Linked DNA regions of Homo sapiens: region 2 is linked to region 1. Evidence: fine-mapped expression QTL. A gene starts in region 1. The other region holds a variant in brackets. All regions are shown on one strand. Distances are between the middles of the regions.

Evidence for each region. PIP is the estimated chance that this variant, and not a neighbour inherited with it, causes the effect.
Region 2: its variant is the best candidate, but not a certain one, in a credible set for the expression of RNF216 in testis (GTEx, PIP 0.81).

What each region holds. Positions count from the first base shown.
Region 1 is chr7:5,778,685-5,784,062 of GRCh38, reverse strand. It overlaps RNF216 (ring finger protein 216), which reads left to right and starts at 2,400. Exons shown (of 17, transcript NM_207111.4): 1 at 2,400-2,522. RefSeq lists a silencer at 2,602-2,991.
Region 2 is chr7:5,727,805-5,733,182 of GRCh38, reverse strand. It overlaps RNF216 (ring finger protein 216), which reads left to right. Exons shown (of 17, transcript NM_207111.4): 6 at 2,366-2,468; 7 at 3,587-3,751. Among named protein-coding and RNA genes, the nearest start is that of MIR6874, 19 kb to the right of the region's middle. The variant C/T (reference allele first, on the strand shown) is at 2,360.

The DNA of each region.
Region 1 (5,378 bases):
GGTCCGGAAAGAACCTTGCACTCCTGCTAAGATCACCAAGCTCTCCTTCCAATACTGCTTTCTTCCAACATCTCAAAGGGCTTATGAGGACCATCCTAAGAAGAAGGCTGTAACTGACAGCGATTATCCACCTCCCCCAAGAGGACCAGCATGGAGGATAAGCTCATCAAGGCCAATGCCTTTGTTTTACCTTCCAGGTGATTCCAGGATCTCATCTCAGGTAAGTATCTATCTTAAACTCTCTCTCCTGTTCACCCTCTAATGTCTCCCATGCACTGCACCCTCTAACTCAGGGCCTGACATCTGTAAGATCCCTAGATCCTCGTCCTGTTCTGTAAGCAGCCCTTCAATTTCTACTTCACTGAAACATGACTATTCCCTCAGGACACTGTTCCCCAAAGCACTATGAGTAGTGGTCTTTTTCTGTCCCATGCAAGCCCCCATAAGCCACACTCTACTGTCTTAGAGAAGGAACACTCATTGCCGCATCAAGACTATTGTTCCTCTCATTTCCCTGTTTTGTTTTTGTTTGCTTCTTTTGAGACAGGCTGTTGTTCTGTCATCCAGGCTGGAGTGCAGCAGTGCAATCATAGCTCACAGCAGCCTCGGACTCCTGGGCTCAAACAATCCTCTGGCCGGGTTTAGTGGCTCGCTCCTGTAATTCCAGCACTTTGGTAGGCCGAGGTGGGTAGATTACCTGAGGTCAGGAGTTCAAGACCAGCCTGGCCAACATGGTGAAACCCTGTCTCTACTGAAAATACGAAAATTAGCCGGGCGTGGTGGCACATGCTTGTAATCCCAGCTACTCAGGAGGCTGAGGCAGGAGAATCGCTTGAGCCCAGAAGGTGGAGGTTGCAGTGAGCCAAGATCGTGCCACCGCACTCCAGCCTGGCTGACAGAGTGAGATTCTGTCCAAAAAAACAAAACAAACAAAACAAAACAAAACAAAAAAATCCTCCCACCTCAGTCTCCTGAGTAGCTGGGACTATAGGTGCGCACCACCATGCCCGGCTAATTTTTATTTTTGTAAAGATGGGGTCTTACTCTATTGCCCAGGATCGTCTCAAACTCCTGGCTTCAAGCCATCCTCCCACCTCCATTTCCCAAAATGTTCGGATTCCAGGTATAAGCCACTATGCCCAGCCCAGACTCATTTATCTAATTACTGACTTGATATCTCTACTTGAAGGTGTACTTGGCAATTTTTTTTTTTTTGAGACACAGTCTCACTCTGTTACCCAGGCTGAAGTGCAGTGGCATAATCACTGCACTACAACCTCCCCCTCCTCGGTTCAAGCAATTCTTGTGCCTCGGCCTCCCGAGTAGCTCGGATTACAGGCACGCACCACCATGCCCAGCTAATTTTTGTATTTTTAGTAGAGACGGGGTTTCACCATGGTGGCCAGGCTGGTCTCGAACTCCTGACCTCAAGTGATCTGCCTGCCTCGGCCTCCCAATGTGCTGGGATTACAGGCGTGAACCACCACGCCTGGCCAGCAATTATTTTAAGAGTTGGGGTCTTGCTATTTTGCTAAGGCTGGTCTTGAACTCCTGGCCTCAAGCGATCCTCCTGCCTTGGCCTTCCAAAGCGCGGGGATTATGGACATGAGCCACTGTGCCCAGCAGGAGCAGTATTTTAGTCAGTTATTCACTTGCTCACTAAAACCTAAACTTCCTGAGGCCAGGAACACATTTTACTTTTTTTTTTTTTCGAGATGGAGGGTTGCTCTGTTGCCCAGGCTGGAGTGCAGGGGCGCCATGTTGGCTCACTACAACCTCCGCCTCCCAGGTTCAAGTGATTTTCCCGCCTCAGCCTCCTGAGTAGCTGGGATTACAGGCATCCGCCACCATGCCTGGCTAATTTTTTTATTTTTGGTAGAGACGGGTTTCACCATGTTGGCCAGGCTGGTCTCCAACGTCTGACCTCAAGTGATCCACCCGCCTTGGCCTCCCAAAGTGCTGGGATTACAGGCGTGAGCCACTGTGCCCAGCCATGGGACCCACTTTACTCTTAATTTCCCCAATTCCTAGAACAGTGTGTGGCCCACAGGAAATCCGCAGAATATATTTGCAGAATGAATGAATGACTTGCCAAACGAATTAGGGCAAATCAGTAGATATCGAGTAAACATCCACAACCACCTGCCCCATACCCTTTTCAGCTCTGGGGAGATGGTGGCTCCTTGTGGGGTCGGATATGGGGGTCTCCTTTCCTTTCACCCTCCTGCCTCGTGGGGGAGTCAAGTCTCCGCAGGCGGAGAGCCCGGATGCAGGCGCGACTAGGCGGCCCTCTCTATGGTGAGCCCCCCGGTCCCTCCTCCGCAGTACCCGGAGTGCCTCTATGGTTCTTCCTGTCCTTAGTCGGGAGGGGGCGCTGTGCGCAGGCGCGAGGTGACGCCGCGGCAGGGCCGGAAGGAGTGCAGCGGCTGCCACGGAGCTCGCAGCTGCGGCTTCTGAGGAGTAAGCGGCGCGGTAGCGAAGGCCGCCGAACCTGCCTGGCTAGCCGGCGACTTGAGTGACGAGTGAGTGTCGGCTGCGGGGCGCGCTCGAGCTCCTGGGCGGGTCTGTGAGGCGACGCGGCCTCTCTGAGGGGCGCCTCTGTGGAGCTCCGGGGGTGGGGGCGGGGGCGCGGGCCGTGAGGGCCGCCGAGCTGAGGGGCGCGGGCCGAGGCCCGGGCGGGATCGGGCCAAGGGGCTGGGCTGGGCGTCTCGAGCCCGGTGCGGTGGCGAGGCTGGAGCGACAAAGGCGCTGAGCGGCCGGGTGGCCCCCTCTCGCCACTTCGCGAAGTTTCGCGGGCCGGCCCCTCGGGTCTGCTGCGCGAGGGCAACAGCCCGGGAGACCGCGCTTCCCTCCCCCGGGCCCGAGGCCGCCGCGGAGGCGGTGTCCGTGCACCCGAGCGCGGCCTGGAGGAGCGGCGGGAGGCGGGCCGTGCCTGTGAACCCCAGCCCAGGCGGGCGGCGTTTTTCCTCCTCTTCCCTCACATCTGGAGCGCGTGTTCCGCGAAAGTTGGCGACTGTCACCCGGCACTCGCGAGGGCGCCGCAAGTGCGTCAAACCCTTCTGCGGGGCGCTGGGGGCTGGCCCGGCTCGGGTGTCCGGGCGCTGGGCAGCGAGCGAGGCCGCTGTCCCCGCGTCGAGGTGGTTCTGCTCCCGGTGGAACAGGACCAGGGATCCAAGACTCTGGGCCACTTGCAACCAACCCTGGAGCGTGCGCGGCGTGCGGGTTACAGAAATTTCTGACAAATCCGACAGGGCTCTGTAAATCCCTAAGGGCCTGGGTAGCAGCTGTCCTAGGTACTTAGATCGTGCAAAGAGAACGTTCTTTTTTCTTTTACTTTTTTTTTTTTCTCCTTTTCTTTGAGACGGAGTCTTGCTCTGTTGCCCAGGCTGGAGTGCAGTGGCGCGATCCCGGCTCACTGCAAGCTCTGCCTCCCGGATTCAAGCGATTTTCCTGCCTCAGCCTCACAGGGATTGCCTCAGCTGGGATTACAGGCATTTGCCACCACGTCCAGCTAATTTTTGTATTTTTAGTAGAGACGGGATTTCTCCGTGTTGGCCAGGCTGGTCTCTAACGTCTGACCTCAGGTGATCCCTCCGCCTCGGCCTCCCAAAGTGCTACAGTCTTTTCAAAAGACGTTTCAGATATGTTCTCCGGGACCCTCGGGCCCTTCAGTAAGAAGCGCCCTGGCTGAAAACCCACACGTTCACCTACAGAAGAAGCACTGTGACGTAGAGGGTGAGCAGAGCAGAGGGCCTCACAGTGGCCCTCACATGCACCTGGCTCCAGCCTGGCCAGGTCATTTTGCCCTGGTGGGCCTGTGCCTCAAAAATGGGGTTTCTTCCCTTGTGAGGAAGACCCATGAATTAGTAACGGAATTGCCAGGAATGCTAAAAACTATCTAAATGCCATGTATTGTTTTCAAGCTGTTACTCCTGGAAGGGGCTGGGTTGGCATTGTTTTAGAGGTTAGGAGCCAAACATCAGCTCATCTATTCTCCAGCTGTTGTTTGTCCTCCATCTTCCTGCAATAGTCAGGCACAGGGTCTTATAAAAATGGGTTTGTGCTGCTGTATGTTTCGGTGGGTACCTTTGTTTACTGAATGGGATGTAGGTGGGGGACCAGAGCATATCCGCGTCCCTCGGAAACAGTGGCGTTTTAGATGTAGTATGTCCCGTCAGCTCCTCTCTGCCCCACCCACCCCAGCCCATTCATTGAGCATTTTTTTTTTTTTTTTGAGGCGGAGTCTGGCTGTATTTCCCAGGCTAAAGTGCAGTGGTGCCATCTCTGCCCACTGCACCCTCCGCCTGCCAGCTTCAAGTAATTCTCCTGCCTCAGCCTCCCGAGTAGCTGGAATTACAGGCGCGCACCACCACGCTCGGCTAACTTTTTTTTTTTTTTTTTTTTTTAAGAGACGGAGTCTAGCTGTGCTGCCCAACTCCTGGGTTTAAGTGACCCTCAGCCTCCCAAAGCACAAGAATTACAGGCTTTAGCCACCGTGCTCTGCCAGAACATTCTTTACGCGCTGAGAAGGGAGAGAAGCGGGAAGATTCTATGAAACATCTCAATTTAGTCGGCTTGCTTTAAGGAAGAAGGCTAATACATGGCCTGGCTTTGCCTTGGTTTTGTATTTCATAATTTATTGCGCCTGGGGTGTGGGGAGTAGTGGTGGATTTGAGGAAATGCCTGGAGAGTCTGGGCCAGATTTTGGACCCCCTGGCAAACCTCATTCGAGGCTTTAGATTTTTACCCTGATTAGAGCAGCAGCAGCTAATAAAAGAGAACTCCTGAAGCCCCTGTGGAGAAATCTGATAAAGAAGGGTTAGGTGTGAGTGAGGCAGATCGAAAGTTGATGAATAGGATAGTTGAGAGAGCTGGTATTTGCTGATTCTACTACCAGCTACTATTTAATGTGTTTACAAAATTCTAGGCATTGCTATATTCTAGCTCTTTAGAGACATAATTCATTCTCATACCTGATATCATTATATTTGCATTATTGTTAAAGATAATAGAACATAGTTGGGAATGGTGTGGCTCACGCCCGTAATCCCAGCACTTTGGGAGGCCGAGGCGGGCAGATCACCTAAGGTCAGGAGTTCGAGACCAGCCTGGCCAACATGGTGAAACCCCGTCTCTACTAAAAATACAAAAATTAGCCAGGTGTGATGGCGTGCGCCTGTAATCCCAGCTACTGGGGAGGCTGAGGCAGGAGAATCACATGAACTCGGGAGGCGGAGGTTGCAGTGATCCGAGATTGTGCCACTGCACTCCAGCCTGGGTGACAGAGCGAGACTCCGTCTCAAAAATAATAATAATTTTAAAAAAAGAAACTGAGGTGCTGAAAAATATCTAGTCCCAAAACTTGTAAGGGTCAGCGT
Region 2 (5,378 bases), 51 kb after region 1:
ATTATTCTCTGGACTCCTAGGACAGTGTTAACTCCACAACTAAACTAAAATGTTAATGGAAACTGGAAATAAGGCCCAAAGCTGAGTTGAGCAGGCTGGGATTTTGTTGTAGCTCAGTCTCAGTTGCTTTATGTGCATCTTTAAATGGCCTTCAGATGGAACCGTCTGGCCATTTTAAGCAGGAAGCCTATTCATTAGAGAACCACATGGCAGGTAATCTACTTTGGCTGGTTAACTTAGACCTTTCACTCACACGTGGTCAGCTTCAGTTGGATGAAGGCAGCAACAACTATCTAAGGGTTGAAAGGTTGGAGTACTAGCCTGGCTTACTTTGCAGGAGTGACTTCTCTAGAACTGCTAGCATGTCAGATCAGCTCAAACATGAGGTCATATGAAGAGGTGGGCAGATTGAAGTCCGACAGGCTTCCCCACTGCTTTTGCCCCAGGGTGCAGATATTAGAACAGAGGCTACCACTTGTTTCTGTAGAAGAAAAACTTTGTCCTTCATTTTCTGTGCCTCCAAATGTCACTTAACCTCCAGAAGAGTTGTGTTGGTAAACATAATGAAGGGATTAAACTAGAAATGAATTTTGACAGTTTATAGTGAGAGCTTCTGATTTCTGTCATGTGGAACTTCATGTCTGTAGCATTTCAGTATTTGAAGTTCTTAATATTGTTGCAAATATAAAATGAATTGGGGAGAGATGAACCTCTCAAACATGTTTTGTTTTTTCAAGAAATCATATCTACTGTTCCATCTGTATTTCATGTAGAGGTGTATTTATGTATCATTTACTTGAGAAAACACGTAAAAACAGACCATTTTAAAGCTAGTCCGTGTCTGGTTTGTCGCCACATCAAATATGCACATGTAATGAGTTGTCTGGAACTCAGGCCTTTCCCTACAGACGCGATTTTTGCTGGTGGCTAATTCTCAGGTCAGCCTTCAAAGGTTTGCATAACCTCAGTGCACACCAGTGAATTCTAGGATGGAGAATTACCACTGATGACAATGGTTTTATAGGAAAATGTACTCTGAATTCTTGTCGCCCTCTGTAATAGGAGGAGTTTGCTGCTTTTTTTCCTCTCTTTGGGCCTCAGGCGTTGTGTTCCGTGGACTGGGCAGGCTGTGGTGGTAGGGAAGCGGGGAGCTTAGAGATGAAGAGTATATGGGACTCCTGAAGTAACGGCAAAGGGAAATGCATTGAGATGTCAGGATGAGGGAGAAGGCTTTGACGTGGGTCCCCGGCGGGGGCTGCAGAATCAATGAACCTCTCCAAACCGGTCCCCAAACACTGGCACCTGGATGAGAAAAGGAGCAGAGCTGAGCACTTTTTCTCTACCCTCTTTCTGCCAGACCTCCTGTTCTACTATTACAGGCCTTACTATTGACATCTGGCAAAAGAGAACCAGTAGAAAGGGAAGTGTGTGAGAACTGCAGGTATAGCACCTAGGAGGTCATCTTAGAAATCTACTGGAGCAAGAGAAAGAACAGAGAAAAGGGGAAGTCCCCATTACCCTCCGAGCAAAGAAGCTTCCTTGCTACTGAATGTGGCTAGAGCTGTACCCCACCCACTCTGTCTGCACTACTGTGCAGTTGTTCCAAGGTGGTTGTCTGATTTGACTGTGAAGAGCCTGGATAGTTAACATGTGTTGGGTCTGGGTGGTGATACATCAGTGTGTGTTATCTCACTCTATATAGCCTTACTTTGGAAGTATTTCATGGTGATAATAGACAAAGCTAGTGGGTTTTGTGTGAAGAGAGTCTGTTCATAGGAAAACATGATCTGTTCATCAGTCTAGCTTGGCAGCTAGCTAAATAAACCACGTGTAACTCAATGGCTCATAGAGCTTTATTATTACCATAGAGATTTATGTTACCACAGGGGTATAAAAAGTATTAATGAATTAACAGAAGGTCTTTTATATTTCATTTATTACATCTCTTAGCAGACTGTTTTTTACTGTAAATGTGAACACACAGTTTTCCACTTCTTACTTGTTCATAGTTTTCTCGACAAAGAGTAGCTGCTTTTCTTAAAATTTTCCAGTTTTGTAGTTTAACCAATAATAGTTTCAGTGACTTCATTACATTAACACCCAATTGATACATAAACTTCAGAGGAGTTTGCCTTAATCAGTATGTTCATTGCTTTTTAAATTTTTTTGTCTTTCACAAAGATAGAAATTCAGTGCAGTTGTTTGTTTATTGGTTTAGTTTTTCTGGGCTACAAACATCTTAATTTCTTGATAGGCCAGTTGTAATGTGTGACTAAGGACTATATTCTTCAACCATTGCATTTGAAGCAATGGGCAGGTGTGGGATTTGGAAGCAGTATGAAAGTAACATCATTTGTTT[C/T]TGCAGACTTTGTAATTTTCTTCTGGAAAACCCAGATTATCCAAAGAGAGAAGACAGAATCATTATAAATCCCAGTAGCAGTCTGCTGGCCAGCCAAGATGAGACAAAGGCAAGTGTCATGTTCATGTTTTGCAGTCACTGCCTGGAAATGCTGTGCTTTGTTGTTGTTGTTGTTGTTGTTATCTCTGTGGGAAGAAAGTGCTTTGTTGGGACAAGTTTTTAAAGACTAGCCGAGGGACATAGGATTTCAGAATATATCTATACTTCAGTGCGATCTCCCAGTCTGAGCCACTTTGAATTCTGTCTGTCTTTAACTTCTATCTTTCCTTGTAATTCTTATCTTCCTTTTCCCACAAAGAATTGAACGAATTCTCCATATCTTTAATCCTACAAAGCAAATTCCTAAAGCAAAACAAGAATTGGCCAAAACTCTTAACATTTTATTATGAAAATTTTCAAACCTACAGAAAAATTGAAATATTTTACGTTGATCATTTATATACCTACCACTGGTACTAGTTAACAGTTTACTGTATCCTCTTTATCATACATATGTCCTCTGTCTGTCCATCAGCACAACTTTGTTATGTTTCATTTCATGATAATGCATTTCAAAGTAAATTGCAAAAACATGAGTACACTTCCCTCTAAGTACTTCAGCATGCAGGTCATTACCCAGAGTGGAATATCTTTTTTCTTTTGATGTGAGATTTGTATACAGCGTATACTATACATCTGTTTAACCAGATCTCATATCAAGATGTAAACAGTTTGGTTTTTAAAAACTTCAATCATTGTCATTATTTGTGATCTAAACTGGCATTTAGTGTGTTATATGGTCAAGTATGGTTGAGAACTAACTTTATTAAGATCTGTTGCTTGATCTTCCAACTCCCCATAGATTCTTTGACTGTCTCTCTTACGTATTCTGTAATAGAAAAAAAATAGTTGTTCGTAAATATGGTATGGAAAGAAGATGGCTGTAAGATTGGTTTAAATCCCCAACTATACTTCTTTAGTAGTAAAACTAGTCTGTCGGCTCCAGACAGGTTTGTTTAACCTCTCTGAGCCACCGTTTTCTCATCTGTCTTATAGGGCTGGTAACTTCCTTATAGAGTAATTAGAACAAATGTTATTCTTTTCTACACATGTAATTCTTAAAATGATTTCCCCTGTATGGGAAATGTACTGCCTGGCCTCTGATTTTATGCTTCTCTCTCATTTCAGTTGCCTAAAATAGACTTTTTTGACTATTCTAAATTGACCCCTCTTGACCAGCGCTGCTTCATCCAAGCTGCTGACCTCCTCATGGCCGACTTCAAAGTGCTCAGTAGTCAGGACATCAAGTGGGCCCTGCACGAGCTCAAAGGACACTATGCAATCACCCGAAAGGTACTCTACTTGGTCTTCCTGTTGGGGTCACACCTCTTGACTACATCTTCCCATGGTAACAGAATGAACAGTTCAGCTTGTGGAAATTGGGATGGTTTATGATTGCTAAGGAATTTATTAGGGTGAAGATAAATAGATGGGTATTTGCTCATCGTGACGGACTAAATGAAAAGAAATAATAGATAGATGAGAAGCAGAGAAGTTCTGCTTTGACCGTAAAAACATGGAGTGTAATACCTTCTACTGTGGAATGCAGGAGTGTGAAAGATGCATTCTAATGCTGCTCCTTCCTGATTTGCTTTCCAACTTGGGACAGGTCACACGACCATCCATCCCCCAGGTGGCTCAGTTACCAGTGATAGGACGTAAGGTCTGTAGAGAGTCCGGGAACACAGCAGTGCCCCCTCAGAAGAGAGTGGGCAGCTACTGACAGCTCCCAGCGTTCTCCCCGCAGGATCCTAAAATAGATGGCACTTAAAGGCCTTGGTTGAGGGTGAGGAGGGTGCTGGTTTGTGGTGGGTAACACAGGCGTCTTCCATGAAGGACAGCACACAGTGCCTGCTTTGTAGCTGTGGCCAGAACAGGAGCGCACGCACCAGCAGAGACCTTGGCTTACTCCTCTTGGTCGCTCTTACTGCCGTTAAATTGTATTCTACTGAAATTCTTGTGATTCTCAGCAAACACAGTGATGTTTCTTTTGTCCAAAGGACAAACGTGGAGTTATCGTAGTGGTTAAAATACTCATTGGGTCTTACCTGTAGGAAGGGAAGAACCAAGCCAAGGACTGTGGCTCATGCTAAGGTCTAGGCCAAGCCCCTTCCACCTTTTCTTTTTCTTTTTCTTTTTCTTTTTTTTTTTGAGACGGAGTCTCACTCTGTTGCCCAGGCTGGAGTGCAGTGGCCTAATCTCGGCTCACTGCAGCCTCTGCCTCCCCAGTTCAAGCAATTCTTCTGTCTCAGCCTCCTGAGTAGCTGGGACTGTAGGTGCTCACCACCGCGCCTGGTTGGTATTTTTAGTAAAGATGGGGTTTCACCATTTCGGCCAAGCTGGTCAGCAACTCCTGACCTCAGATGATCTGCCCACCTCAGCCTCCCACAGTGCTGGGATTACCTACATGAGCCACCGTGCCTGGCCAAAAAAAAAGACTGAAAGAAAAATAGAGGGGCTTTGAAAGGGTAAAACGGGAGGCAACCTAAGGTAGACCAAGGGTCTCCAGAAGGGCCACCCTGAGGAAGGGACATTTAATCACAGACCCACATAGGAGTTTGGTGAAAGGGGTCGTGGAAGATGTTAGTATCATTTATTGGGGTGAGAACTAGTATAAACATCTGCTTTGGAGAGAAATAATCACGAATTCAGTCTGGGAAACGTTGGTTGCCAATGTGCTGAGAAGGGCCTGTGAGACATCTGAGTAAAAATAATTCATTGGGAGGTTGAATGGACTAGAAAGTTTGGAAAATACAGACTGTAGATAGGATTTTTTTTTTTAATCTCCTTGGGTTTTATGGTGATAGGACTTTGAGAGTCATCAGCATATGGAAAATCTCACCAGCCAGGATGAGGTACCCAGAGATACCAGGTGAGAAGAGAGGACTCCTGACATGCAAAGACCAAGCGGAGGAGGCAG